Linked DNA regions of Homo sapiens: all the other regions are linked to region 1. The links come from fine-mapping of genetic effects on gene expression. A gene starts in region 1. Each other region holds a variant in brackets. All regions are shown on one strand. Distances are between the middles of the regions.

Region 1 (11,193 bases):
CATGTTCCATGTGAAATAGCTAACAGAGAAGTACAAATCAAACAGTTGGGTGCAACCACACAGGCCAGAGAACTCAGCCTTGGTCAGAAACTGGGTGTATCAATATTTTCAATATCCATGTAACCCGGGTTTCTGCTTCCTTGCCTCCATTCTCATTCTAATATGAAGTCCTTATAGAAAAAAATAAGATGGGAAGAAAGGAAGTCAGAGGAAAGGAGAGATGGGGACACTAAGAGAAAATGGTAGGAATGGAAGTTGAGACAATTGGGGGGAGTGATAAAAGGGAAAGAAAAAGGCAAGATAATATGAAAGAGAAAGGAAATTAAATTTAAGACTTAAGGAAGTAAACTAGTTCTTTAAAAATTACATAACTTACTCAGCATGTGAACTTTTGCCACTCTTGTAATACAACTCAAACTGACAAATATAACATCCTGAGGCATAATAACAGAATGTCCACCTTTATTTTTGAACTTCAGTTTAAACGTTAAATGTGTGTATATGACTTTACTTACTGGTGTTGATCTTAATTGTATCTAATGTATTTCTGAAGGCTTTCATAGCTTTGGGTTTTTTAAAAAAAATATTAGCTTTATGTATTGACTTTATATCATATATACACATAATGTCACTGGTCTTTAAGTCTTTTTTTATTCTATTTAACTGTACAACTGAGTTTCCTAAGTCCAAAAATGCCCAAACTGTGAATGAATGAAGCTTTATCCTGAACACAGTAACCCTACTGAGACGACCTCCCTTCTCTCCCCATATATTCTAACCTCAGCTTTTATAGATTCCCACAATTTCAGATAGTCTGGAATAAAGAAGTCCAAACTTCCTTCTTTACAGGAGAAAAAAACTGTCAAAAAAGATTATAAAAAGCATTTCAAGCAATCATCAGTTTGTCACTAATAGGAAACCAGAAGCTTTCTAAAAGCAACCAAAATTATGGATGTACCTTAACTTCTAAGCTGAGGCATATCATTCCAACTCCACCATGCATCAGACACCCCATTCATTCGCTTGCTCTCCCTTCACCTTCTGACAAAAGACAAAGTGCTCCTGTACCCTTAAATGCCAACCAAGTTCCAAACACTGTGGAACTACACTGTATATATTTATCCTGAATAGATTACCTCATTTAAGCTTTACAACCCTACATGGCAGGCATTGCCATGCTCATTTTCAGAAGAAGATATGCTTTGCCCAAAGTAAAAAAAGCTGCTAAGTGGAGATGTTCCAAATTGGAGTTTACCTGACCCCAATCACTAGTCTTGTCACAGCCGGACACTGCCTCTCGCACAAGCAAGATTTACAAAGCAAGGAGATAGATTAAGTTGCCCAGCATAGGAAGGAGTATCAGTAAAAGGACAACAGTCAGAGATGCAGCCTTATCTCCAGACTCAATCTCCAAACCATCCCCCTTCCCTTTAATCAAATGAAGTTCTCATACCAGAAAAAGGTGTTTCGTGTAAAGCAGACCTGATAGATACAAATAATTTCAAATGACAGATTAAACACAGTAATTCAAGCATAGGGACCCAATGATACCAATCTTGTCAAAGGACTGACTATTAAAGGGCTTATAATAATTATACTCAGCACAAGTTCTCAGCTACTGGATGTGAGCCACAATTAGAAAGACTTGTGTACAGAGATGGAACAGTAAGACTTGGGCAAAGGTTTTACTATAATCCTTGTTGCATGTTCCAGCCACATGGAAAAGACCAACACGGGCATTCAAGAGAGATCACCTTGAGCTATGTTGCAATTAGATCCCTGCTTGTCTTTGTTTTGTAATAACAAGTTAGTGTACTATAAAGGACTATGACGCCCTTTATATGTGCATTTTCCTTAAGAAGAAACAGATACATCTGAGATTAGTGATACAGAAAAATGAGATTATAACACAAATACTATGCCTACCAACACTGGGAGGAAACACTGTCCCCAGGTCCACACCAATGCAGAAAAGCCAAAGAAAGAAGGGAGGAAAAAGTCATATGCCATGGAGAAACCACTAGAAACCAAGGTAAGCCTTGGTAATACATTTGCTCAATGTCTCATATCAAAAACATGAGAAAACAGAATAAAGAGTTCATTTCAGGACTGAGAAAGGCTTATGAGTAATCTTACCTATTTTAATTCCTTCGAAGATGTGACACTTTTTCTCCTTGAGCGCCCCTGTCTCTTTAAGAATATATTTTGAAAAATCAGTAAGATTACGGGAATCCTCATTTGAATTTCTGTGACTAAACCAAATATGTTTGGTTTAGTTTGTTGCCAGTTTGTTGTATTTTGAGTAAAGAGTTATGCTATGCAGATTTTGCCATTTTTCATGATGATTCATAAATAATAAATGAGGTACTGCTCATAATCTGACATTTTACTGTCGTCAGTAAATATGTTGGAGTGGGGAAGAGTATATGTGAAAAACAGTAACAATTTATAAATCTAGATGAAATCTAGTTGAACAATTCTTTCAATTTGTTTGTAGTCTTAATACCTTTAAAAATAATGTTAGAAGGAAAAAAATCACCCTAGTATAAAAACAAAACAAAATTTTTTAAAGTTTTCTGGTGGCCGACACACACACACACACACACACACACACACACACACACGCACACACACACACACACCTGGATGTTCTGTATTTAAAATAAATTTGGGGTTTGTAATGGCTAAACAAAATTAATAAAAGAGTGCCCTGCATTTAACAGGATTTTCCAATGAAGTGGAAAGGAAATTATCGCTATGAAGATTCCCGGGGCTTTTATGAAATGTGAGACTTGCTATAAAAACCAGCAGGAAAAAAATTATGCTGGTTTACCTTTCGATTATGTGAACAATAATAAAGCTATGGGCTGGCTGTTAGCTGCTCTTTGCATCAAAGTGTTACACTTTTTTCATGACTAAACATGTATTACTTCCCTTTTGGAATGTTAGGTAAGACCAGCTTTCACAAGTCCCAACTTGAGACTGGCATAATATACTTTAAGACTAACGCATAAAGGCTGCCTTGCGTTAACTTTTTTGTTACTATACTAAATTTGCGCTGCCAGCCAACGAAACACTGAAACACTCCAAGCCAGCTGTTAGGCTACCGTCCCGGGCACGTTGCTTACAGAGGTATTGGGAAAGGAAAAAGTGCATCCTATCCCAAGCCCACTTCAGGAGAAAAAGGGGGCCACCTACTGTAGTGAAGGGACATCACCTTATTTCCTACTTAACACCATCACACATAAAGTTAAAGATGCTTCATTATACAGGAAAATTTCATAGGCCCCTCACAAGCCCTTCTTCGCACTTAGAAGGGCCTATGATAACCCTTTCACAGTAGGGCCCTCTCTTTTTTTTAAAAGGTCTTTATTCTTATAACAGAAGCCTGTCAAATATCTGTCAGAATAAGCTCCCTACTAAGATTTTATACACATCACTGGAAATTTGGGGTGATAATCCTCAGTACTTGCAGCAAAGTTCTTTGCACAACATACTTTTATGGGGGCCATAAGAGATGCTTCTCCCTTTGACTGATGCCTTTAGTACTTAACAGTTAGTTGTTCTGGCAGTAAAATGTCAAATTATGAGCAGTACCTCATTTATTATTTATGAATCATCATGAAAAAATGGCAAAAAGGTCAACACAAGGACAAATCTCCCAAACTAAAGTCTGCATAGCATAACCCTTCTGCTCAAAATACAACAAACTGGTTTCAAAAAAAAAAAAAGAAGAAAAGAAAAGAAACTGGCTTCAAATGCTAAATCAATGGGGAAGTATAAAATAGCACAGAGAGAGTCAAAACTAAATGAAGGATTGTTTGTAAATCTGCAAATTCTTAAAAGATTAGGCCATTATTAAGTTGGCTAATTGTTATTCAAACACCTTCCCCAGGACTAGCTACTTTTCCGTAACATACTTAATCCACCCAAAGCAGAATGTAAAAAAAAAAAAAATTAAAATTGTAGGTGTCTGTTTTTGTATGGTTAGGAAGCAGATAGGAAAATACAAAAAATATAATTTTGATACCCAACTCTTGATTTTTAAGTTAAACACCCATTTGTTTTTCTGTAAAAACATAAGGAAAATCAACTAGTACGTACACATTATTTCCTTAAGACACAAGTAAACACTAAGTAATACCTATTATAGATTTATTCACTCCAAAAAAGTTTTCACCTTTGATTATTTTCATTTATCTTCATCCACAATAACAGGTTTTGATTCCATTTGATGAAATTTTATTTTTTTAAATGTATTTAAATGTTGCATTCAAGAAAATATCAGAATCTTTGAGATTCTCATCTGAAAGCAAGAAAATTATTTACAAATCAGAAAAAGTGGCCGGGCGCAGTGGCTCACACATGTAATCCCAGCACTTTGGGAGGCTGAGGCGGGCGGATCATGAGGTCAGGAGTTCAGGACCAGCCTGGCCAACATAGAGAAACCCCGTCTCTACTAAAAATACAAAAAATTAGCCGGGTGTAGTCGTGGGCACCTGTAATCCTACCTACTCAGGAGGCTGAGGCAGGAGAATCACTTGAATCCGGGAGGTGGAGGTTGCAGCAAGCTGAGATCATGCCACTGCATACCAGCCCGGGCAACAGTGTGAGACTCCGTCTCACAAAAAAAAAAAAAAAAAAAAAAAAAAAAAAGTGATATGATTATATAAATTTGTCATTGTTGGATGCTTTTTTAAAGCAATAAAATAAATTGTTTTATGTTAAAGGTCAGCATTCAAAGGAGTCAGTGAACCCAGCCCCTGAATAATTTAACATATTTTGAATACTTATCATTGTGTATGTGTAAAAATATGTCTATTGTGTATGTGTAAAAATATGTCTACAGATTTCATTAGTTTCATAAGACTACAAGTTTCCAAAGTTATCAATTACAACAATACTCTTTAAATAATATGTAGAATAATATTTTCAAAGAATTCATCTGTCATAAAGCATATTCTTATTTCTTTTAATCCAAAATTTAATTGGCAGGAAGGCTGCAAATACATGTTTTCTAGATAGCAATAGGAGGCTGGAAAAAAAAAATGACCTAAAAATTGGATCTGATGAGTTAGTAGGCCCCAACCCGAGACTTCATCCCCCACTCCTTAAGCAGACTTCTGGCAGTCTAAGCTCCAGCCCTCTGTGTTTCCTTCAGGTGAATCACCATCTGATTCCTGCAGGTTCAGGAAATACTCTTCCCCAGTCGACAAATCTCACCTACTCTTAGTTATGAGTCATTTACATTAGCAAGAGAGCAAGTTGTTCCAGTAGTCGCCTGGCAGGAGAATTTGAAAGGGTGCCCCAAAGGACAATCTCTAAAGGGGTAAGGGAGATACCTACCTTGTCTGGTAGGGGAGATGTTTCGTTTTCATGCTTTACCAGAAAATCCACTTCCCTGCCGACCTTAGTTTCAAAGCTTATTCTTAATTAGAGACAAGAAACCTGTTTCAACTTGAAGACACCGTATGAGGTGAATGGACAGCCAGCCACCACAATGAAAGGTAAACGAAAAATTTTTCATTTTCTTAAAAGCCGTGGTTGATAAGACACAGCAATGATTAAAAACTGTAATTATACTTCTGCTTAACTCTGAGGTTTGAAGAAAAACTAGAAATTAGAATGCTGACAGTAAGATATGAGGCACCACTGTGAGCCATGAAGCTTCAACTGTTTCCAGCTCAGGCAGGCAGAAATATAAACTACATATTGTGCCTTCAAAAGTAGAAACAATGTTTTGGCAATCACTCCTATTTAGTACATTTTTTTTTAAACCACATTTACTTTATTAGATGAGTAAAAGTCAAAGTCTCTTATAATTGTTTCCCAGGACCCAAAACTTAAAATTTGTTTCATAATCGTTTATCCGTATTGTTTTTTTTTAAAGAGAGAGACAAAGATTTTTCTCTTTCCCAACTGTCTCATTTTGATAAAATAATCTCAGTCTTTTCATTGTACCACAAAGAACAGGGCAATCCTCATTCTGATCCCTGGAGAAGTCATGTTAAAACATGTCAGGAAAGGCACTGAGAAAACTGCCCAGTGACTGACAAACAGGTTAGGAACAGCTTACTGTTGTTCCACATTCAAACTGTTTGGGAAGTTTTCACTGCAATGAGGAAAACAAGAAGCAAGCATGGAGATCTCAGTTCTTTTAAATTTTAATAAGGACTTTTAAAAGATAGATGAGCCTAAAGTAGAGTGACTTTTTGATTTCTTATTTTAAGATTTATCTGCTATGGAATTTTACATCACATTCTCAAGTTGAATCTGCTTTTATTTTAGGTATATTAACATTTTTAACAAGAGATTTCTTTCATAATTGTTCTCCAATTTACTAGCAATATGAACAGCAACAAATCTGGTTCTATATTACTTTATACTGGGGGGAAAAAAGCCAGACACCCTGTTGATATTTATTATTTCTGCCAATTGAGATTAACTGTCTCCATGAAGTTAGGGATCAAAGAGGCATATTCTCTTAATCCTTCAGCAACATCTCATCCTCAGACTCTTGTTTCTGACCTCTACTTGAAATGTGTTGCAGGTATACATGGGTTAAGGACAAGGGCCTAGAAGAGCAGATGGATGGCTGAATTTCATATTTAAGGATACAGCCTATAAAAAGAAAGTATCCCGCCAGAAAATCTTTATTTCATGAAGACACTGAGAAAATGCCCTAACCAGAGATAACATGCTAAGAGGATTTACTGCATTCAGAGATGTGGGTGGGAAAAGGAAGACTAAGTTAAAAGGAATGTTCTTATTTAGAGTTGTGCTGTTTGTGCTCTTCAGAGTCTGCCTGCTTTTCTTCCTTAATATCTTGGCATTTAACTCTCTTTAAGAACCACAACAACAAAATATTTCACGCTTAGCTCTTTACTCTGAGAAAATACCAAGGAAAGTTAAGATAGAGGAGACCACAATGGCCATTAGTTCCTTGTATGCTCCTGAAATAAGAAAAGCCTGGAAAATCCATGAAAATCCCTCAAAGCCCAATAAAGGGTAAGGTTGTGAAGACAGGACAGAAGTGAGGTGAAATCTACGTAAAGTCACCTCCCTAGAAGCATCCCCCAGTCTCCAGGGTAGATGTTCTCTATGCAGGCAAGAGGCAGTAGTTTGGGTTTAAAGTAGAAAGCCCAGGACTCACAGCAAAATGACCTGGGTTTAAGGGCTGATTGTACCAAATATTATCAGTGTGACTTAGGCAAGTCTCTGAATTCCCCAGGAGCTCACTTCCCTTCCTCACAGGTAAAATGAAGGGATTAGATCAGAGGGTCATTAGAGGCCCCTTGCATCTCTAGATTCCCACGATCCAGGTGATATGCTGAGACGCTGGGGTTGGTAATGAAAGAACCCAAGGCTTGGACCAAGCACACAGGAATGCTTGAGAGGAAATGGGGTAGAGCCACAAATGAGGACCTTCCCAATTCTGCCCCTAGCCAGCTACGTGATGTTAATCAAATCTCGACTTCGCTAGGTCTCAGATTCTTCCTCTACAAGATGAAGATGAATGTACTATTTGCTCTTCCTACCTGGCTGAAAGTTTTGCATTAATACAAGTATTAATACAAGTGCCAGCTGCAGTTCTTATACTTGTAACTATCTAAAGCAGGGAGGCAAGAGCAGAAGCAAATGCAAGGTGACCCTGCTGTTAAAAACTAGATGAGATGCACCCACCTCTCAGACCTTCTGCTTCAGGCCAATGGTGAAAGACAGGTTCTTTCTGACCTTACAAATATTACGAAATCCTCTCCCTCCTTATATGGCAAACACAGGCAGAATAGAATATTTGTTCTCTATCTTGTACCTAATTAACATATTTTGTTTCATTAATATTATTATTGGCCAAACATTTAAAAAATTACACTAAAATACATTTAAGCGAGAGCACTGATTAAGTTCCATTTAGTGTAAGCCATGACATTAAGTCATTTATATCAATGATTCTATAGTTTCTCTTAAACAGTAATTTCTAATGATTTCCATCATTTTAAAAGAAGAGCAAAGCTCCTTAAATGACCTTTTCTAATGTACTAGATAGGATCCGTATGGCACAAACTGTCCTTCTATCCTTAATACTAAAACAACAATAATTAGCATATACATCTAGCTTGATATGTGACAAGATTACTGCATATTTTATCATGCAATTTTTTTTTTTTTTGAGACGGAGTCTCGCTCTGTCACCAGGTTGGAGTGCAGTCGCGTGATCTTTGCTCACTGCAACCTCTGCCTCCTGCGTTCAAGCGATTCTCCTGCCTCAGCCTCCCAAGTGGCTGGGATTATAGGCGCCCACCACCATGTAACCTCTGCCTCCTGGGTTCAAGCAATTCTCCTGCCTCAGACTCCTAAGTGGCTGGGATTATAGGCGCCCACGACCATGCCCAGCTAATTTTTGTATTTTTAGTAGAGACGGGGTTTCACCATGTTGGCCAGGATGGTCTCAATCTCTTGACCCGGTGATCCACCCATCTCGGCCTCCCAAAGTGCTGGGATTACAGGTGTGAGCCACCGCACCTGGCCTTATCATGCATTTTTTTTTTTAACTCAGACAACCTTAAGGTATAAATTACTATTATCCACTTTTACAGCTGAGCAAACTGAGGCTTAACAAGCATAACAGTAGGGAGCACAGCTCTGACCTTGAACCACTGCCCACAGTCAACCACGCTGTATTTGCTGTTACCTCTTTTTGTGGGTAGTTTCATATGTAAAATGATATAGACTTATTGTATATTTACCATATACTAGTACCATAGTATAGACTACAGTAGATAAATGGCCAACTTGGGTGCATGATCCCCTGCAATCAAGTTGGAGCTATTTTAACTTGGTAGTTTTCCCAAAGGAGGCATCAGGTGCTAATCAGCACATGAATACCAAACTTCTGTGCAGGCAGTAGCAGAGCGGTAGTTAGGAGCACAGCACTGAGATGGGCTTACGTTCTGTTCAAATCCAGGCTCTGCCCCTCATTAGTGGTGTTAATGAGGGCAAGCTCTAGCACTCCAGCGACAGCACATATCTGCTCAAAGAACAAATAACATGTGCAAATAGCCCAAGTATATTGTATTCCAAGTATTCTCTCTAAGCCTCAGGTTTTTTCATCTGAAAAACTAGAGTACTAATTCTTACTACCCACTCAAGTAGCATGTCAATACTGAGTTATTACTACATGTCAAGTTTGAATAAAAGGTCTATGCTATGGTAATACTTCATTCAAAACAATCTTATGAGGGCTGTTTTACAGAAGAAGGCGGCACAGAGGGGTTGGGTAACCTGCCCAAGTAAGTGGCAAACCTGTAATGTGAATCCAAAGTCCTTTTAATAAATTAAAATATACATAGGTAATTTAGAACACTTCTAGGCACACAATAATACTAGCCAGCATTTGGGGAGCTCTTTTACTGTTGTTGTATGTAGCAAGATAGACACTTAGACTTCTCAAGCTCCCAGAAAGGGTTTTGCCCTGTAGCCTGAACAGGCTCTCAGGTCAAAGATATTACTGTCTCTTGACCACCAGAGAAACTCTCTGGAGGACATATAACAAAGTGAAACTTTGTTTTCCAAGTCCTTGAGTCTAGAGGGTACCCTTTACTGACTATATCAAGATTCGGAATGCCTCCAAAGCAAAGGCCAGTATACCAAAAGGGCAGCAGAAACAAAATGATCTGAAGTCCCTGTACTAAAGGAGCTTATGATCTAGTTAAGAAAGAAAAAAGTTAACAGAATACTTGGACTGTTTGCACATACTAGAGTATGAAGCTCTGTGGCTCTCAGGCTGAGAACTAAAAAGAGAGATCCAAGAAAACAATGCATAAATATCTGTTGCCTCTAGACTGTAGGCATTTGAGGATTTGCTATACTCTTTTCGGGGTGGATGACCTACCTGTCCCCCATCTTGTTCCTCCTCAGACCTGCTAGGCCCCAAAATTACAAATAAAACTGAAAATAAATCACTGGGCCTTTCAAAACTTTTTTAGATAAACCGGCTCCAAGACAAATTGGGAAAAACTGCAAAATCAATTGTTTTTGTGTTGTTGTTTTTGAGACGGAGTCTCGCTTTGTCACCCAGGCTGGAGTGCAACAGCGTGATCTTGGCTCACTGCAACCTCTGCAACCTCCGCAACCTCCGCCTCCCAGGTTCGAACAATTCTCCTGCCTCAGCTCCTGAGTAGCTGGAAATACAAGTGCCTGCCACCACACCCGGCTAATTTTTGTATTTTTAGTAGAGACAGGGTTTCACCATGTTGGTCAGGCTGGTCTTGAACTCCCGACCTCGTGGTCTGCCCACCTCAGCCTCCCAAAGTGCTGGGATTACAGGCATGAGCCACCACGCCTGGCCTAAAATTAACTGTTTACTAGATATATTTATATAGAAAACAGTGCTACATATCATGATGAAGTAGAATGTGGCTCAAAGTAATATGCAATCCTTAAATAATCGCAGCTACAATTGTATTCTAGTTGTCACACCTAAGCATTTTAAAAACCTAAAAAATGAAAACTTTTAGAGGATAATGGCTTGCATTAGGTCAAAACGGTACATGCCTATATTATATATAGCAAAACAAATTAATAGAAGAATAGTAAATGCCATTTAAAAGGTAATTACTACATCAATGTGTCAGCATATACCATGATGGCTGCTGGAAAAATAAAACTATAGTATCTGCTAAACATCAATATTCCCTTTACCCTAAAACATTCATTCTAATTTCATAATGTAAACAACAACACTAAATATATATATATACACACACACACAGTTTATATATATATATATAATTTTAAAAACTATTCATTCTGTGCCTAGAGCCAACAGTACAATACCTCAAGTATTATCTCTACTTTTCATCCTAAGACCCAGAAATGCTAAAATGTACTCAATCCTTCACAGAGTCATGCTGGATCTTACCATGGTCTGTTTATATCCAGTTTACAGTCTATATGAAATTGCAAATAAGACAGGCACTAAACAACTGGCCAGTGCGGAACTCAGTTTGAGTGCTCAAAGTTGCAGGCACCTGAAATATAAATGTCATGGTACACTACTTCTTGCTCTGATGGCTTCCCCATCCTGGAAGATGCTCTCAGCAAAATAACTGTCTCACAGCCAGGGTGGCAAAGCCAAACAACTCTACCCTTAAAGTTTTTCCCCACCCCAGCTCCTATCTAGAGATGGTACAT
Region 2 (7,230 bases), 28 kb before region 1:
CCCTGAAAAAATACAAGGATGAATGATTCCTGTCTTCAAGGAGCACAGATTCAATGTCATCAAAGTAGTATTTACAGACCTAGAAGTCCAAAGAGGGGTGGTGAAGGAAAGCATCCTAGAAAGAGCCACGTGCTCCTCACATCGCACAGGATCACTATGGCTCCAAATTTACTGATAATAGCCCAAGCTTGGGGTAAGAGAGCTGTGACTGCATACTGGTTGTGCCACTTGCCAAGTCCATGATCTCGAATAATAAACCTTTCTAAACCTCTAATTCTTCCTCTGAAAAATGGGGTAACATCGCTTCCTTGTAAGGTTTTTGTGAGAAAACCTGGGATAAAGCGTGTAAAATGCTTCGAAGTATAATGGACAGTGTTCACTACTGTTAATTCACATGCTAGACTTCCCCTCCTCCTCTGCACATCCCCCACACCCACACCGAACTGCCTTACTCAACATTTCACCAAGACTCCAGGGCACTTCCTCCCTTTGCTGTTGCTCGTCCTTACACCTAAAATACTCTCATAGCCACGATTTCACTTGCTGAAATGCTATGTACAAATACAGTGTCAGTTCCCTCACTCTGTCACTCCAGTTTATTGAAAACCTCCCCACAGAAGGAGGGGAAGTAGACTTTGGAGCATTTATTACAGTATAATTCACTTATTTTCTAGGTATTTGTTTAATGTCTGTCTTCCTCATTAGTGTGTAAATTTTGTGGAAGACTCCATGTCTGTTTTGTTCATTTTTATAATCTCCTTAATAGGCAATGAATTAGCATCTAATATTTGTTGAACATACTAAATACAAAATAAGCAGACTAATGAACAAATATATAGCTAAAGGAATAGGGCAGAGGTGAAGATAAGGAGAAAAATTAGTTTTGTAGGAAACTTTACCTGATGATTAAGTGTTGAGAAAAATGAAGGGGAGATGTGAGAGACAAAGCTAGAGTAAAAAAGTTTGTAGGGTGAACTAAGTTTTAGTGGTGGGAATGAAGACTAAGAAGCAAAATGAAGAGGTATCTAAGAAGTTAGGAAAGGATCAGGCTTTTGAACCCAAGGAGTAAATGTGCATCTCACTGGACTTCAAGATGTATCCACTAGTTAAAATTATTTATAATGTATACTAATAAATAGTATTGTTTATATTACCAAGTAATTATTATTAATCTATTTACAATGTATAAAAAATTAATACATTATAACAGCAGGGAACTTTTGAATTTACATGTAATTGCAAGGAATTTGAAGGGTAGGTAGAAATGTGTAAATGTCCAGTAATTGGTTTGATATGGGCCCTAACACAGAGGTGACAGCTCAGGAATAAGGGCAGTATGTCAAGTCCTGGGAGGGGTGCAAAACCTTCACATTATGTTTAGGGAAGAAGGGCTAAGAGAGCTGAGATGGTGAGGGGAGAAATAAGCCAGCAAATGGTGCACATACATGCTCCTTAATTAACAAGATACTATAATTCAGGGTCACACAAGTCAGGGGAGGGGATACATAAGAAAGAGTGTCACTGACAACGTCCAGTGAGGTTAAGAAGTCACAATGGATGTGACTTCTTGTTTACTGACAAACCATGTGTGAACCTCAAAGGAGAAGAAGTTTCTCTAAGTGGCAGGGCACAAAGCTAAGAAACAAGCGGTTAAAGTAAGAGGTGATGATGAAATGGTGAAGATAGGGAAGTGACCCACATTTACCAGGAGTTGGGCATGAAGAACAACAGCTTGAGAGGAAAGAGCGTTATGAAGATCATCAAAAGACTCTTGTTTCAGACCTATCTTTCAAATAAACAAATTTCCATAGTAGAAATCAAGATTGGGGAACAGATAACTGATGATAAAGGATATAAGAGACAATGGCCTCTTAGCTGGATTAATATGGAAAGAAAGAAAGGAACATCTTTCTACTTGACCATCGGGAAAAAAAGAAAATTAGTGAAAATAAAAAGACATTTTGAGGTGAAGAAGACACTTAAGAAGCTCAAATCATTCCTTGGCCTTGATATGCTCAGGGAGTTGGGCCAAGGAACAAAGTCATGAGTTGAGAATGCAGGGATAAAACTGAAAGCAAAAGCAGCACGTAGTGAGCTGGAAAAGAATCACTGCTCAACCTCTATAAGGGGTGTAAAGACAGTATTCCTTTCTTAGCATTAATATTTTCAGGGAACTCATGCTAGGTGTTACTACAGTAGTCTTCAAATAGGACAGGCAGAGGCATTTTAGAAGCTACTATTTTTCAAGAGCCTACAAGATTTGTTTACATCAGTTTTTCATACAAGTAGAAAATGTAGGCTGGGCATGGTGGCTCACATCTATAATCCCAGCACTTTGGGAGGCTGAGGTGGAGGATCACCTGAGGTCATGAGTTCGAGACCAGCCTGGCCAACATGGGAAAACTCCATCTCTACTAAAAATACAAAAACTAGCCAGGCGTGGTGGCAGGTGCCTATAATTTCAGCTACTCGGGAGGCTGAGGCAGGAAAATTGCTTGAACCTGGGAGGCAGAGGTTGCAGTGAGCCGAGATGGTGCCATTGCACTCCAGCCTGGGTGACAAGAGCAAAACTTGGTCTCAAAAAAAAAAAAAAAAAGAAAAAGAAAAAAGAAAGAAAACGTAGAAGCCTTCAAATAGCAATTCATAACAAATGAGAATAAAGTCAACCTAAGAAAATATACCAAATATTTTCAAAAGTATCAACGATTTCTGCTCTTTCAACTTGGTGTTTAAACGCCCTCAAGTTGCACAGTTGTAAGTAATATTAATAATCTGAGATAAACACCCAAAAATTACTCTTGTTTATTCCCTCAAGGATACAGTTGTTGGACAAGGAAAAGCATCAACTGGAGAGTCTGTTACAGGAGACGTCAGGCTACCTCTTTTATCCTAGTCCACCTGCTGCTATTGAATTGAATGTGTCATCTCCCATGTAAACTAAGTTCTAAAAATCTCGTCCTTTAGATCAATTACTTTCTTTCTCCAGATATTATCTCATACTCACAGAAACTTAATAGATGAAGAAACTAGAAACATGCATGCCCAAAACCCTGGCAGGCTTGTTGTACTACACGAATTAAAATATGTCTCTTGAGCCAAATGTCCTTAGAAAGAAGAAATGGAGTTAAAGGAATTGAGGTCTGCTCTAATTCATCTTTATTTCTTTAAAATAACTGATTAGAAATTTTGCCAAAATGTGTATGTGTTGACAAAGATGTCATAATGATGGTAAGATGATCAGAGCTGTGTATTATCCTTTCACCTTACTCACATTTTCTGATATTTCAACAATGATTCAATTATCATAGAATTTTTAAATTACTAATGTCCTTAAGGAAAAATGAAAAAGATCTCACTCAGAATGCGCTTCCTTTCTTCCAAACACTAATAAAAACAGATGAAGTGGATGTAATTGTCCTTCTGATAAGACAAAATATGGCACTTCATACTTCCCAGTACTTCCTAATTTTTGCATGCTCTACTTCAAATGCAAATCCAGTATATATCCGGAAGTAAACTGCACATAGCAACCTATCACGTCTCTAAGAAAAGCAGTAAAAACCAGTCTTTAGAAACAATAAATGCATTTAGTTAAAATTTTTAGCTTATTAAATAACTCTTAAAAGATGCCTTAAAACACTATTTCTTTCAGCTGTATCTTTCAATATACCATGCTATTTTGTTTAGAATAAAACAAGTTCATATAAATGTTCCATCAGGAATAAGCTTCGAGCCTGGGAGGAAGAATGGGTGTGCACATGGATGAGGAAACTGTTACAGGAATGAAGAAATTAACAGGTTTTTTTTT[A/TA]ATCATTAGTAACTATACATAGAGTATATTTTCTGTAAATCAAGAAAATAGGAGGCGGATTTAACTACATTTGTATATTAAATCTTTGTTCTACACAGCTTATAGTCCACAGTATGACTGATATTTATATATCTACTAGTCCTCTTCTTGCAAGCAGAACACTTAAGACTGGGATGTCAGATAACTAGGTCACAAAAGACGGCATTCATTTTTGCGAAATATTTCAATGCCCAAGACTCGTTACTTTTGGAACCTGTTGGTATCTAACCTAAATTTCTATATTCCAATGGATAAAGCCAAGCTAGCAGACATGACTATGCACTGCTTTAAAATACACACCCTCAAACAAAATATTAATGTCAAAATGACCACATTTAGAACCAGAGACCACTGGAACTAAAACAGCCTAAGAGCTATCAAATGTCATAATTATATCTCTATCCTCCTGCCCAGTTCCAAAAGACTACAGGTTTCAGAGTAATCCCATTTGAAGCAAACATTTTCAGATGAGCAGACTACCTTTAGTAGACTTGGTAAAATAAACAAACCAGTTAAGCCACTTAAAAGTAAAAATTCTGTTCATTTTTCTAACTCATCTCAATTATACAAAATAACCAAACCAACCAAAGTTAGCTCTGTTCCCAACACTAACACAAATAACTACAAACTGTATGTGTTGATGTTATTTACTAATGAGAGATTAAAGTATCTATAACTTGCTCTGCTTCTATTCATATGAAAATATACTTCTGTAACTGAGATACTTTTCACTTAAAGATTTTAGTCACTTTCAGCATTAAGTGGTCTAACTGGCAGTCTTCCTCCAATGAAAAAATGTTATCAGAGGTGGTTTGTAAATAGGTATGTGGTTGTGAGTTAAAAATCAGAGGAAAAATAAAGTTAATTTAGATCAAGAACTGAAGCCCTTCTTTTATCCCTCAAATCTCTACTGTTAGCCCTTCTAGAGGTTTAGAAATATAAATTCTCAATAAGGTAGTATGACTTAAGTATTCTGAATTAGTAATATGGCAGATTGATTTGTTAAAAATAATCATTTTCTTGAATAAGCCTTGTTTCATTTGATGGTCTTAGAAAAAGCATCATAAACATCCTTTAGCATTTACAATTTGCTGTAAAGGAGAGTATGGTCCTTATTTTATTGAAAGACGTACAACCATCCCACACGAGATTCACTTCTCACTACTGGGGCCTCTTAGTGGGAGAGGGGTTGAGGAGAGGGTGTGATAGGGAAAGATTCTCAGGTACAGAAATACACAAATACAGATTCTAAGGCTAACTAGACAGCACAGGTCAGAATGGGGTCTCCATCTAACTTCACTGCTCTGCTCTTCAGTTCCCCTCATCCAGAGAATGAGGATGATACGCGTACTTCAGAGAATAGTTGAGATTATTAATAAAGTGAGTTAATCCATGACAGTGTAAGAAATTAAATATTGACAATTATTATTTGAAGTACATACAGCATAAAAGCTCTTTTTAAAATTTTGAGACTCCAACAAATAAGGAAGGCTAAGATTTGTTTACAATAGTCATATTTAAAAATAACAATACAACCCTTTCCAAGAGTTTAATATCAAACTAATCCCTTTAAGATGACCAACATTTGGGGATTATTATGTGTCTGAAGTGACTGATATTAATAGCTTCAAGTTCTAAATGGCAACAAAATTCTTATTCCATTTAAATCAGTGGTCCTCACATTTGAGTGTACCAAGCATCAATGGAAGGCTCACTAAAATACAGATGCAGGGTGGGGCACCCCAGAGTTTTTTATTCACTCAGCTAGATTGGTGCCCAAAAATGTGCATTTCTAGCAAGTTCCCAAGTGATGCAGAGCTGCTGCTCTGCACTGTGAAAACCAATGAAGATATTTAACATGTAAAGACATAGACAAATACTCAAAACGCAGAAGAAAAAACCAAAACGTGTTCACAGCAAAGGCACCAACACAAATGATTCCCACTGATAACAGAAGGACACTGCAGTTTGAGACACCAGGGAGGTGTGTTTCTGCAAAGCAATATTTACATAAAGTTAAAGCAGCACAGGTGTTGGAGAGGATGTGGAGAAATAGGAACACTTTTACACTGTTGGTGGGACTATAAACTAGTTCAACCATTGTGGAAGTCAGTGTGGTGATTCCTCAGTGATCTAGAACTAGAAATACCATTTAACCCAGCCATCCCATTACTGGGTATATACCCAAAGGATTATAAGTCATGCTGCTATAAAGACACATGCACACGTATGTTTATTGCGGCACTATTCATAATAGCAAAGACTTGGAACCAACCCAAAAGTCCAACAATGATAGACTGGATTAAGAAAATGTGGCACATATACACCATGGAATACTATGCAGCCATAAAAAATGATGAGTTCATGTCCTTTGTAGGGACATGGATGAAATTAGAAATCATCATTCTCAGTAAACTATCGCAAGAACAAAAAACCAAACACCACATATTCTCACTCATAGGTGGGAACTGAACAATGAGAACACATGGACACAGGAAGGGAAACACTACACTCTGGGGACTGTTGTGGGGTGGGGGGATGGGGGAGGGATAGCTTTAGGAGATATACCTAATGCTAAATGACGAGTTAATGGGTGTAGCACACCAGCATGGCACATGTATACATATGTAACTAACCTGCACATTGTGCACATGTACCCTAAAACTTAACGTATAATAATAATAAAATTAAAAAAAAAAAGTTAAAGCAGCAAAACACTTTGCCCTTCAATCTCACCCCTAACATATTTTTTGCCCTTCTGGTTTCAAAGTTAAACAACTGTAAATAATTGTGATACAAGGATGCCTTAATTTAATGTTATATTTTCCCAAAAACTCAAAGTTAGGTAAAGAAACAAAAAAAAATTGTTTATATTTAAATTCTATTCAAGAAAAGCATGAACGACACAGTATATAATAAGCCTGGCAATGGATACAATCACTTCTCTAATGTAATTTTGGAATCTGCTAATTTATAATAGAAGGAAGCTGTTTCACCTACAAAGGAGTTAATCAAACACAGGTTTAAAATAATGACATTATTAACCAAGGGAAAAACAAAGGGCCAGAGACTTAACATCCCTAGCCAGCACGCATTTTGAGTTAACATAATTACTTGTTAGAAGAAAATACATCACCCAGTGTTGTACACAATATATTTCAGATAAATTAACCACCCAAGAAAGCAAGCTTAAAATCTTCTCCAGGAAGCAGACTTCGAAGGCTTGATCTCAACTTGGATTTATCATTTGCATAGAAAATAACCATAACTCGAAGTTATAAATCATCAACTCTATAGCAGGTTTCAGTAAAAAGCCGCAAGATTTTAAATTGCTTTTTAAAAGATGACTTCTCAGCCATCCTCATCCCACATTTCCTGGGAAA
Region 3 (11,193 bases), 18 kb before region 1:
AAATTCCCAAGATGTAGATGCCATATAGCATATTCAAGTCACTTGTTAAGTTTTCATTATAGCTGCCTATTGTGGTAATAACCTATATTTTATTTTAGCTACCATTACACACTCCATAAATCTGGAAAGTATGCCCTGTTTTGAGGAATGCCAACTCATGACCATATATACACAGGCCATTTCTGACTCTTATTTTTTTTTTTACTGTTTTAAAATTTATACTGAATGATATTCAAGAAAATGTATGCAGCAACTTCAAAACACTGAGGAAAGTTGGAAATAAGATACACATGGGTTAAAATATTTGAAGCAGAATAATGAATCTCCGTGAGGCCAATCTTTGAATGAGTGAGCAATATAGAGGCAGGAATATCTTCCAAATATAAAGAAAAAAGGTCAGCTTTTTTTTTTTTTACTGATTCAGTATTTTATTTAATAAGTTTCCCAAGAGTAATTTTCCATCAATTTCTTCCCCCTTTTTATTACTTTAGGATTCTAACAGGCAATTATCCATCATTTCTCTCTCAACTGTTTTGACGGTACTACAGTAAAAGAAGCTCAGAAATAAGGACGTTGGGGGGAAAAGTGACTGTGAATAGAAACCAAAAAGCTAAAAGGCATGGAGGGGAAGCTAGAGAAGAGTAAAGCACAGCCCCATTATTTCTCTTCCAGCTTTTGCATATAAATATGAGTGAGCTCTAAGACAAAATGTGCTTTAAGAGGCAAACATTCAACAAATAAAAAAATACTAAGCATCTATAACTTCACATATTGTACTTCAGATCATTTCTCTTCAGCAGAGATGCAATATTTGCTGCAATGAAATATTTTGGGATTCAGTTTTCTGTGTTCATACTAACTACTACAATGAAGATGAGAAACCTCAACTTTTAGAGGAGGCTGTGTCCAAAAAAGTTACACACAGAGATAACAGCAATAATAACTACCTTAGGCTGAAAATAACCATCCTCTCTTTTGTTCTCTAGGTAACCAACAAGAAATGCAAGCCGTCGACAACCTCACCTCTGCGCCTGGTAACACCAGTCTGTGCACCAGAGACTACAAAATCACCCAGGTCCTCTTCCCACTGCTCTACACTGTCCTGTTTTTTGTTGGACTTATCACAAATGGCCTGGCGATGAGGATTTTCTTTCAAATCCGGAGTAAATCAAACTTTATTATTTTTCTTAAGAACACAGTCATTTCTGATCTTCTCATGATTCTGACTTTTCCATTCAAAATTCTTAGTGATGCCAAACTGGGAACAGGACCACTGAGAACTTTTGTGTGTCAAGTTACCTCCGTCATATTTTATTTCACAATGTATATCAGTATTTCATTCCTGGGACTGATAACTATCGATCGCTACCAGAAGACCACCAGGCCATTTAAAACATCCAACCCCAAAAATCTCTTGGGGGCTAAGATTCTCTCTGTTGTCATCTGGGCATTCATGTTCTTACTCTCTTTGCCTAACATGATTCTGACCAACAGGCAGCCGAGAGACAAGAATGTGAAGAAATGCTCTTTCCTTAAATCAGAGTTCGGTCTAGTCTGGCATGAAATAGTAAATTACATCTGTCAAGTCATTTTCTGGATTAATTTCTTAATTGTTATTGTATGTTATACACTCATTACAAAAGAACTGTACCGGTCATACGTAAGAACGAGGGGTGTAGGTAAAGTCCCCAGGAAAAAGGTGAACGTCAAAGTTTTCATTATCATTGCTGTATTCTTTATTTGTTTTGTTCCTTTCCATTTTGCCCGAATTCCTTACACCCTGAGCCAAACCCGGGATGTCTTTGACTGCACTGCTGAAAATACTCTGTTCTATGTGAAAGAGAGCACTCTGTGGTTAACTTCCTTAAATGCATGCCTGGATCCGTTCATCTATTTTTTCCTTTGCAAGTCCTTCAGAAATTCCTTGATAAGTATGCTGAAGTGCCCCAATTCTGCAACATCTCTGTCCCAGGACAATAGGAAAAAAGAACAGGATGGTGGTGACCCAAATGAAGAGACTCCAATGTAAACAAATTAACTAAGGAAATATTTCAATCTCTTTGTGTTCAGAACTCGTTAAAGCAAAGCGCTAAGTAAAAATATTAACTGACGAAGAAGCAACTAAGTTAATAATAATGACTCTAAAGAAACAGAAGATTACAAAAGCAATTTTCATTTACCTTTCCAGTATGAAAAGCTATCTTAAAATATAGAAAACTAATCTAAACTGTAGCTGTATTAGCAGCAAAACAAACGACATCCAATTGTCATGCTGCATGCAAAACTACACAGAATTCATGTTTTGCAGAGTTTTGCCAAAATGAGTAATCATATAATATTTACTGTAATTTTTAAAATACATTATCGTTCACAATTTTATTTTTTCATAATCAACTAAGGAAGAACGATCAATTGGATATAATCTTCTTACCAAAAATGATAGTTAAAATGTATATATATCCTAGTCCCCTAACCAAATCCTGACCTATTGGGATACTTATAAAAATTTAAGTAAGTGGGATACACAAAGAATAATAACTATTAACTTTTCATTATTAGCAAAAACCTAAGGGATTTAAACTAATTGAAACTGTATTTGATTGGACTTAATTTTTTATGTTTATTTAGAAGATAAAGATTTAAAGAAGACCTTTACAATAAAGAGAAGAAATATCGAAGTCATTAAAATAAGGAGACTTACTTTTATGACATTCTAATACTAAAAAATATAGAAATATTTCCTTAATTCTAGAGAAACTAGTTTTACTAATTTTTTACAACTTCAATAATACCATCA[T/C]TGACACTTACCTTTATTAATTAGCTTCTAGAAAATAGCTGCTAATTAGGTTAATGAACATTTTACCTTAGTGAAAAAAATTAATTAAATATGATTACAAAGTTGCACAGCATAACTACTGAGAGGAAAGTGATTGATCTGTTTGTAATTACTTGTTTGTATTGGTGTGTATAAAATACAAAATTTACATTAAACTCTAAATCATTCTTTGTTGTAAATTCTTTGTTCAAAGATATTAGATACCATGACTCACCATACCATATACAACTACATCAAATCCATTTAAGAATTAATGCCAACACCTTTATTACATGTTATTGTGCAAAGTCTCTTCTGAAGATGACTTCTCATTTCAATAAGTTCAAATGTAAATGATAAAACAGGTCAGACTTATAACATGCAGTCTAATTCTACACAAGGCATATTCGCTATTTTAACATAAACAAAACATATAACACATGTGGAAGTTTACATCACTTATCTCAATTTTTTATGATCCTCAGAGGTGACTCTCAAACAGAAGGAGGAACAGACATCAATACCTAAATATAATGCCAGAAGAAATAAAAGGGTGTATTGTTGTATAAAGTTCACTGAACTTTAATAATAATCACTTTTATTGAAACCCTCTACAACCTCTGCTGAGTTCTATTTCATTACGAAGCTGAACTCATTTAACTACTAAGTGGTATTCATTTCCAACCAGCCACATTTCTTTCTCCGGCACCACTAAAAGTGAGCACTCAGTGTCAGTGGAGATACAGAGACAGTTCATATAGTATATAACCTATACACTGCTGGGATAAACAGCAGTAATAATTTCTGCTATGTAGACTAGTACAGTTCACTCTAAAATCATATGCATAAATTTACATGTTCTATAGGAATACCAGGATATTTGAGGTAGAAGACAATCTAGAGATCAACTAATCTAACCTTCTTCTTTTGCATATAACAAAAATGAAAGGCAGACTCATCCCTCCACCCATTCAAGTTGGGGTAGAGCATGGACTGAAACTGACTACTTCACAGTGTCATGGAGGTCAGATGTTCGGAGACTACAGAGGGGACACAAACTACCCCCAAAATCTTTGTCACTGAGATGACAATTTCCACAAGAGATGAAATAAACAGAAATGCTAATAGTAATATGGTATTTTAGTAAAAGTAACTGAAAGTATTTGAAATTACCTATGTTTTATGAGTATGTATATATGCCATGGAAATTTTACATAAAACTCTAAAATCACACTTTGCTGGGATATCTTTATTCAGAGACCTTAGACATCATATACTACATCAAACTAAACCCATTCAAAACAGTGTGAGAGTTAGTATTTATGGAGGGATCATTATACATAAAACATGCCATTATCTCTAGCTTTTGGCATATTAATATATATTAACCCCACATTTCACAGTGAGTTTTACTTTTTTAAATGAAGCCAAATTCTGTAGACTCAGGTCCAGATGTGAAAAGTTCAAAAGATGAGACAACAAAATGTAGTCTTGCCCATAGCCTCAGTGGCTTACAAGTCCTAAAGGTATTGGTTATTGACAGTTTTTCTCAGTGGTTTCTTACAGAAAAGGTCTGAAGCAGGTGTTGGCAAACTATAGCCCACAGGCCAAATCGCAGCCCACTGCCTATTTTTGTACAGCTTGGGATTTAGGAATGTTTTGTTTTCATTTTTGTTTTTAATTGTTATGGATACATAATAACTGTACATATTTATGAGAGTAGAATGACAGTTACTAGAGAGTCATGGGGAAGGAGGAGATAAAGAGGTACTGGTAAATGAGTACAAAAATACAGTTAGTGAGAAGGAATAATATCTAGTGTTCCATAGCACAATAGGGTGACTATAGTTAAAAATACTGTATTGTATATTTCAAAGTAACTCAAAGAGTGGGTTCCTAATAGAAAGAAATGAATGCCTGAGGTGATGGATATCCCAGTTACCCTGATTTGACCATTACACATTGTATACTTACATGAAATATCACGTGTACCCCTTTTCAAATGTTTGTGAGGAAAAAAATCAAATGAATAAAATTTCATGCCGAATGAAATTTATATGAAATTTGAATTTCAATGTCCATAAATAAGGTTTTATTGGAACACAACTATTCAGGTTTTATCCATGGCTGCTTTCATGCTACGACAGAGCTGAGTTGCTGTGATGTAGACTGCATGGCTCACAAAACCTAAGTATTTTCTAACTGGCTCTATAAAAAAAAGAAGACTGGGGGACCTGGTGCAGTGGCTCACACCTGTAATCCCAGTACTTTGGGAGGCCGAGGCAGGCAGATCACCTGAGGCCAGGAGTTTGAGACCAGCCTGGCCAACATGGTGAAGCCCTGTCTCTACTAAAAAAATAAAAATTAGCTGGGCGTGGTGGTGGGCACCTGTAGTCCCAGCTACTCAGGAGGCTGAGGCAGGAGAACCGCTTGAACACACGAGGTTGCAGTGAGCCGAGATTGAGCCACTGCACTCCAGCCTGGGCAACAGAGTGAGACTCCATCTCTAAATAAATAAACAAATAAAAATTAAAAAAGAAGACTGCTTCCCCCTGGACCAGTACTTTAAAAACAGGTGGAAAAAAACCTTTTACAAAAAAAAAAACACAACTCTCTTTTTGTACCTAGGTGTTTCAATCATTTTGCACTGAAGACATCTGATCACTGTTCACTGCCAACACTCAAGGTGTGATTACAATACTGTCAGTGGGAACTAAAGATGTGGAAATGCACTTCATAATCAATAGGTAGTGAGAAATCGCCTTTTTTTTTTAAATGGGGCAAGAGCATGAAAAGGCAATTTCCAGGAGAAATAGAAATGGCAAAAAAAAAAAGAAAGAAAGAAAGAAAAAACACATAACATCACCAATAAGGAAATAAATTTATATTTATATAACATGGCTTTTTCACTTACAGATTTCAAATTAATTTAAAAGATTTTTTTTCTTTTTTTTGAGATAGAGTCTTGTTCTGTCACCCAGGCTGGAGTGCAGTGACATGATGTCAGCTCACTGCAACCTCCGCCTCCCGGGTACAAGCAATTCTCTGCCTCAGCCTCCTGAGTAGCTGGGATTACGGGCACCTGCCACCATGCCTGGCTAATTTTCTTATTTTTAGTAGAGACGGGGTTTCACCATCTTGGCCAGGCTGGTCTTGAACTCCTGACCTCATGATCCACTCATCTTGGCCTCCTAAAGTGCTAGGATTACAGGTGTGAGCCACCATGCCTGGCCAAGAATCCCACTCTTAATTGAACAATAAATTGGTACAATCTTTCTGGAAAACTATTTGAAAATATTATTTAACATTTTGACAAATAACTTTTTCCTAGAAGGACTGAACCAATAATCCTTCTTCTAGGAAACTTCCTACAAACATGCTAGAAAAAATGCTCAAAAATATATGGACACATACATGCTCTATAGCATTGTTTTTAATAGAGAAAAACTATTATCGTAAACTAACTACATGCCCATCAGTCGCAGCTTAACTATGGTAAATTTATGTAGCATAACTGATTTTAAATTTGATTGGCATGTTGTTAGAGAAATGCAGATCAAAACCACAATGAGACATCATCTCACACCAGTTAAAATGGCTATTACTTAAAAGTCAAAAAATAACAGATACTGGTGAGGTTGTGGAGAGAAGGGAACACTTACACACTACTGGTGGGAAAGTAAATTAGTTCAGCCACTGTGGAAAGCAGTTTGGCTTTTCTCAAAGGACTTAAAACAGAATTACCGTTCAACCCAGCAATCCCATGACTGGGTATATACATAAAGGAATAGGCGTTATTCTATCATAGAGACACATGCATGTGTGTGTTCATCACAGCACTATTCACAAAAGCAAAGACACAGAAGCAACCTAAATTCTTATCATTGGTATACTGGATAAAGAAAATGTGGTACATATACACCATGAGATACTATGCAGCCACACAAAAGAAAGAGATCGTGTCCTTTGCAACAACATGGATGAAGCTGGAGGCCATTATTCTAAGCAAACTAACACAGGAACAGGAAACCAAACACCAGATGTTGTCACTTGTTAGTGGGAGCTAAACATTGAATTCATATGGACACAAAGAAGGAAACAACAAACACCAGGGCCTACATTGAGGGTAGTGGGTGGGAGGAGGGTAAGGACTGAAAAACTACCTATCCGGTACCATGCTTATCACCTGGGTGACAAAATAATCTGTACACCAAACCCCTACAAAACACAATTTACCTATGTAACAAACCTGCACATGTACCCCTGAACCTAAAATAAAGTTAAAAAAAAAATCACGTCAGTCTACATGTACTAACATGGAATGAAACAAAAATCCAATACATAAATAAATGTAAATATATTTGTACACATATATTGGTATGTATATGTATTAACTTTCACTTTCTACTATATATGTTTGTATTTCAATTTTTAAACATAGTGTGAAATATTAAATGTTCCAAATAGCAGTGAATTTATTGCCTATCTCTAGCTACATGTAGATATTTTCTACTATTGTTCTTACTCAGAAAAACAGATTGTTACATTAATAAAAAGTATAACTTATTTCAGCTTATTATTACCACTTTTAGTTTACCACTTTTAGTTACTCTTGTATGGAATTTTTAAAACAATTTCACATAATCTGAGAAAGTACCATGGTATACTTTGATGGGAAGTAAAAGTCTTTTCTAAGAGTATAGAAGTATAGGAGTTCCTACTTCAATTTTCATCCCAAATGAAAGCAAATACTTCCTCATCTTTTCACATATTATTTATATGGTACTGGGCCTTGGACTGTCAATTTTGATGCAACTGAGAAATCCCAAATAAGACTACAAATGGAAATAGTAGTTTATTCCTATCTGGCTAGAGACTGATTTCTGTGACTTTTCATTTTATCTTCTTTGTATCCCTTCTGATCACACTGCTTTCACTCAATTTACATTGGCATAAAGTTTCACAAGTCCATTAAACATTGTGGCTGATTGTTTCCTTCTCACACATCAGGAACTTTCAGCTCAAGAACTCCAGAATTTGGCAAACAATTCCACTGTCACCCTATCTATGGCTTAATCGGAGGCAAGAGAGTGAGGCAGGTTCCAAGCATGGGCTCTGGAACCAGACCAACTGTGTGACTTTACGGCAGATTTGGGTTGCATGATATGGGGAAAATGGCTTAACTTCTGCATTTCCTTTTTTCTCAACTCTAAAAATGGGACCAATCTCTGGGGATTGTTAAGGATTAAATAAGATAATATAATCACTTAAAACAGTATAGCTAGTGTGACTTTACTGATTTTTAACTACATTTCCTTAGAGCCCTATAGGATCTTAAATGTTTAGTTTATTCCCATTTGATAGGCTCCTAGCCTCTGGGATCTTTCACTGTATCTTCTTTGATTCTTCTCTCCTTTCGTGAGACATCACCATATGTATGCACAACATTCCAATTTTCTTTCAATTTCATTTAACAAGAAACCTACATGATACCTACCACATGACAGACATTATTCTAAGCACTGGTGAATGTTCACTCATTTTATTCTTTTAACAACACTGTAAAGCAAATACTATTATTTATTTTTATTGTAAAGATAAGGCAACCATTTCATAGTGGGCATAAGCAGCTTGCCTAAGGTCATAAGAAAAGAAAGAATTGGAAAAAGGAATTGAGCCCAGGCACTCTGGCGCCTAAACATTCTGCTGAGCAGCTTCTCAGCTGTGTCTTCAAGGGCAAAAGGCCTCCCCAGCAGGCAATAGTGCTGCTGTAAACTAAGGAAAAATCAGCTAATACATAAGAAGCACAAACACATAGAAATGAATGATCTATTGGATATTTACTATAGTCAAACACTTTGACATCTACCACATTTAAGAGACTCTATTTCCATAACTCTAGAAACAGGCACTGTAAGTCAGTTCCTCTTTGGAAAGTTTCCCACACTTCAGTGTTTTGAAATTTGACCAAGAAGTGATTTCCAGTTTTCAGATTATGAAATTATCCTGCACAGAATTTATCTTGCTTAAAGAAAAACTATTCCAGATCTTCCTTTAGATTATGGATTTGGGGCTATAGGAAAATTTACAATTAATTTTGTAGGTTAAATTTCTCTACTTAAGAAATAAAGGATTTTTTTTCCTCTGCTGAAGCAAACAAAAAGATATACATTTATGTTTAAGACATACATGTATGTTCTATTAATGAAATCTTGAATCTATACTCCCAAGGATTAATTTATTTCAGTCAAAGAGAAATTTTTCAAACTGTGCCGTTATTGGGTAGTCTAATCAAAACTATTAGACACTGTATTGCCTCATATTTTAAAATGTCCAGGGGGATATTAAGTTTTTCTTCTCAGAATTCAAAGCCAAGTCACCCAAAACTTTGTGATCAACTAACACTAGTCTCGTCTAACTCCATGGTAACACTTGTGGCAAGAAACATGAAATGAAACTCACCATGAACTCCACATCCTCCGTAAGATCTCCTAATTTCCGCTTTTCCTATGCCTACCTGGCAAGTAGATTTCTGCCATGGACAACAACTTTCTCTATGCAAAAGCACCATTACATCTTTCAAACTTGAAGAGAATTAAAGCAAAAAAAATGCACAGATATTGGCCCAATGTTGATTGATGAAATTCCTGAAGTCCTCTGCACTCGAAATACACCAAATACAAAAAAGATTTCTAAAAATGGCCCTCTACTAAGTGAAAGAGTATAATATCTCTATCTGGATTTGCAATTCATTCCCATGGCAATGGGACTAAAAGCCACTAAAAGTGGCTAACATTTTTTAGTGCCTCCTATATGTCAAGCACTATTCCAGGCAACCAATTCATTCTTAATAACACAGTGTGTTAGATACTATTTTCAAACCCATTACACAGATGAGGAAATTGAGACACAGAGCTGTTGAATCATTTATCTATAATCTAATCCCAATTAATTGGTGGAACTGGGATTCTAACTCCAAAAATCTGGATCTAATAGTCTTCACCTCTCAGAAAACATCATGTTAACTCTCAGAGATCCCCAAACCAGAAGACTAAGTCAAATACCTACAAAAATAAACATACCGTCTTCCTGAACACAAATTACTGGAAAATCCAGTTTACAAGGATACAGAAGATTATTCTGTCTGATTTTAGGTAGTCTTATTCTCCTACTTGATTGTAATTTGGGACTATTTTCTTCATCTTTCTACTTTCCACTATATACAAGAGGCACTCAAAAAGTTCACTGAACATGCAGATCAAGAAGATAAACTTCAAGAAAGTTATGAAGAAATTTAAAGATAATTGCAAATAAGCTTCTTTATTCAAGTCACAGATTAACAGTATGAAAGTTTGAACTAAAATAGAGTATTAGCAAATGTCCCAAAGGTCTAAATATGAAGAGGTTCTAATGGGTCACATTACATAAGTAAAAATAAGGAAGGAAATCCACTATAAGAAAGCAGAACATTTGCTTCACATGCTCATTTGTAGGCTGAACTAATGACTGCCGCCATAAGAAGACAGAGAGAACTGAGTATCCTCCCAAAGGTGAATTTCAATTTTTGTTATTATGAGTGTGCTTGCTTATATAAAAGAATATGCTTAAGGGAAAAAAGGTGCTTTAAAGTTAATATTCTACAAACCATAGTTTATGAGCATAAGAAATTACATAATTTACAGCAATCTGATGTATTAGTAATAATAATGTATTATTATCTCTTAAACAGTGTTTTGTTTTATGGCTAACAGTAGCACCTGTGAATGAGGCAGAACCTGTTATTTGGATTTCACAAGGATGTGAAAGTAATGGTACTGTTAAAAGTACCAAAAATGTATTATATGCTTTAAAAATTCTAGCCAGAAAACAGTATTTTCCTTTTCAACACATCTATTGAAAGTGTTGGATAAATGCAGGATGTTAATATGCTATAAACATAAAGTCTGTTTTTAAAAAATAGCATTTGAAAATCATGAAGGGCTTTTTGTTTTCTTTTGTTTGTATATATGTTTATTGGTAACAGGTGACACTGGAAGCAATGAACACCACAGTGATGCAAGGCTTCAACAGATCTGAGCGGTGCCCCAGAGACACTCGGATAGTACAGCTGGTATTCCCAGCCCTCTACACAGTGGTTTTCTTGACCGGCATCCTGCTGAATACTTTGGCTCTGTGGGTGTTTGTTCACATCCCCAGCTCCTCCACCTTCATCATCTACCTCAAAAACACTTTGGTGGCCGACTTGATAATGACACTCATGCTTCCTTTCAAAATCCTCTCTGACTCACACCTGGCACCCTGGCAGCTCAGAGCTTTTGTGTGTCGTTTTTCTTCGGTGATATTTTATGAGACCATGTATGTGGGCATCGTGCTGTTAG

Direction of the effects. Positions count from the first base shown, and alleles are read on the strand shown. Sizes are in standard deviations (SD) of each study's normalised expression. Not every link is listed here.
With allele TA in place of A in region 2, the expression in neutrophils of the gene that starts at base 5,273 in region 1 is lower (moderate effect, 0.65 SD a copy in BLUEPRINT).

What was found. PIP is the estimated chance that this variant, and not a neighbour inherited with it, causes the effect.
Region 2: its variant is the best candidate, but not a certain one, in a credible set for the expression of GPR87 in neutrophils (BLUEPRINT, PIP 0.53).
Region 3: its variant is the best candidate, but not a certain one, in a credible set for the expression of GPR87 in esophagus mucosa (GTEx, PIP 0.54).

The regions. Positions count from the first base shown.
Region 1 is chr3:151,310,900-151,322,092 of GRCh38, reverse strand. It overlaps GPR87 (G protein-coupled receptor 87), which reads left to right and starts at 5,273. Exons shown (of 3, transcript NM_023915.4): 1 at 5,273-5,507. All of the region lies in intron 16 of MED12L (mediator complex subunit 12L), which reads right to left. RefSeq lists an enhancer at 4,688-5,887.
Region 2 is chr3:151,340,884-151,348,113 of GRCh38, reverse strand. The region is part of intron 16 of MED12L (mediator complex subunit 12L); the gene reads right to left. The region is part of intron 1 of P2RY12 (purinergic receptor P2Y12); the gene reads left to right. Among named protein-coding and RNA genes, the nearest start is that of P2RY13, 15 kb to the right of the region's middle. The variant A/TA (reference allele first, on the strand shown) is at 3,809.
Region 3 is chr3:151,328,653-151,339,845 of GRCh38, reverse strand. The region is part of intron 16 of MED12L (mediator complex subunit 12L); the gene reads right to left. P2RY12 (purinergic receptor P2Y12) reads left to right here. Exons shown (of 3, transcript NM_022788.5): 3 at 987-3,003. The coding sequence starts at 1,001. The coding sequence ends at 2,029. It overlaps P2RY13 (purinergic receptor P2Y13), which reads left to right and starts at 10,297. Exons shown (of 2, transcript NM_176894.3): 1 at 10,297-10,365; 2 at 10,839-11,193. The coding sequence starts at 10,318. The variant T/C (reference allele first, on the strand shown) is at 2,798.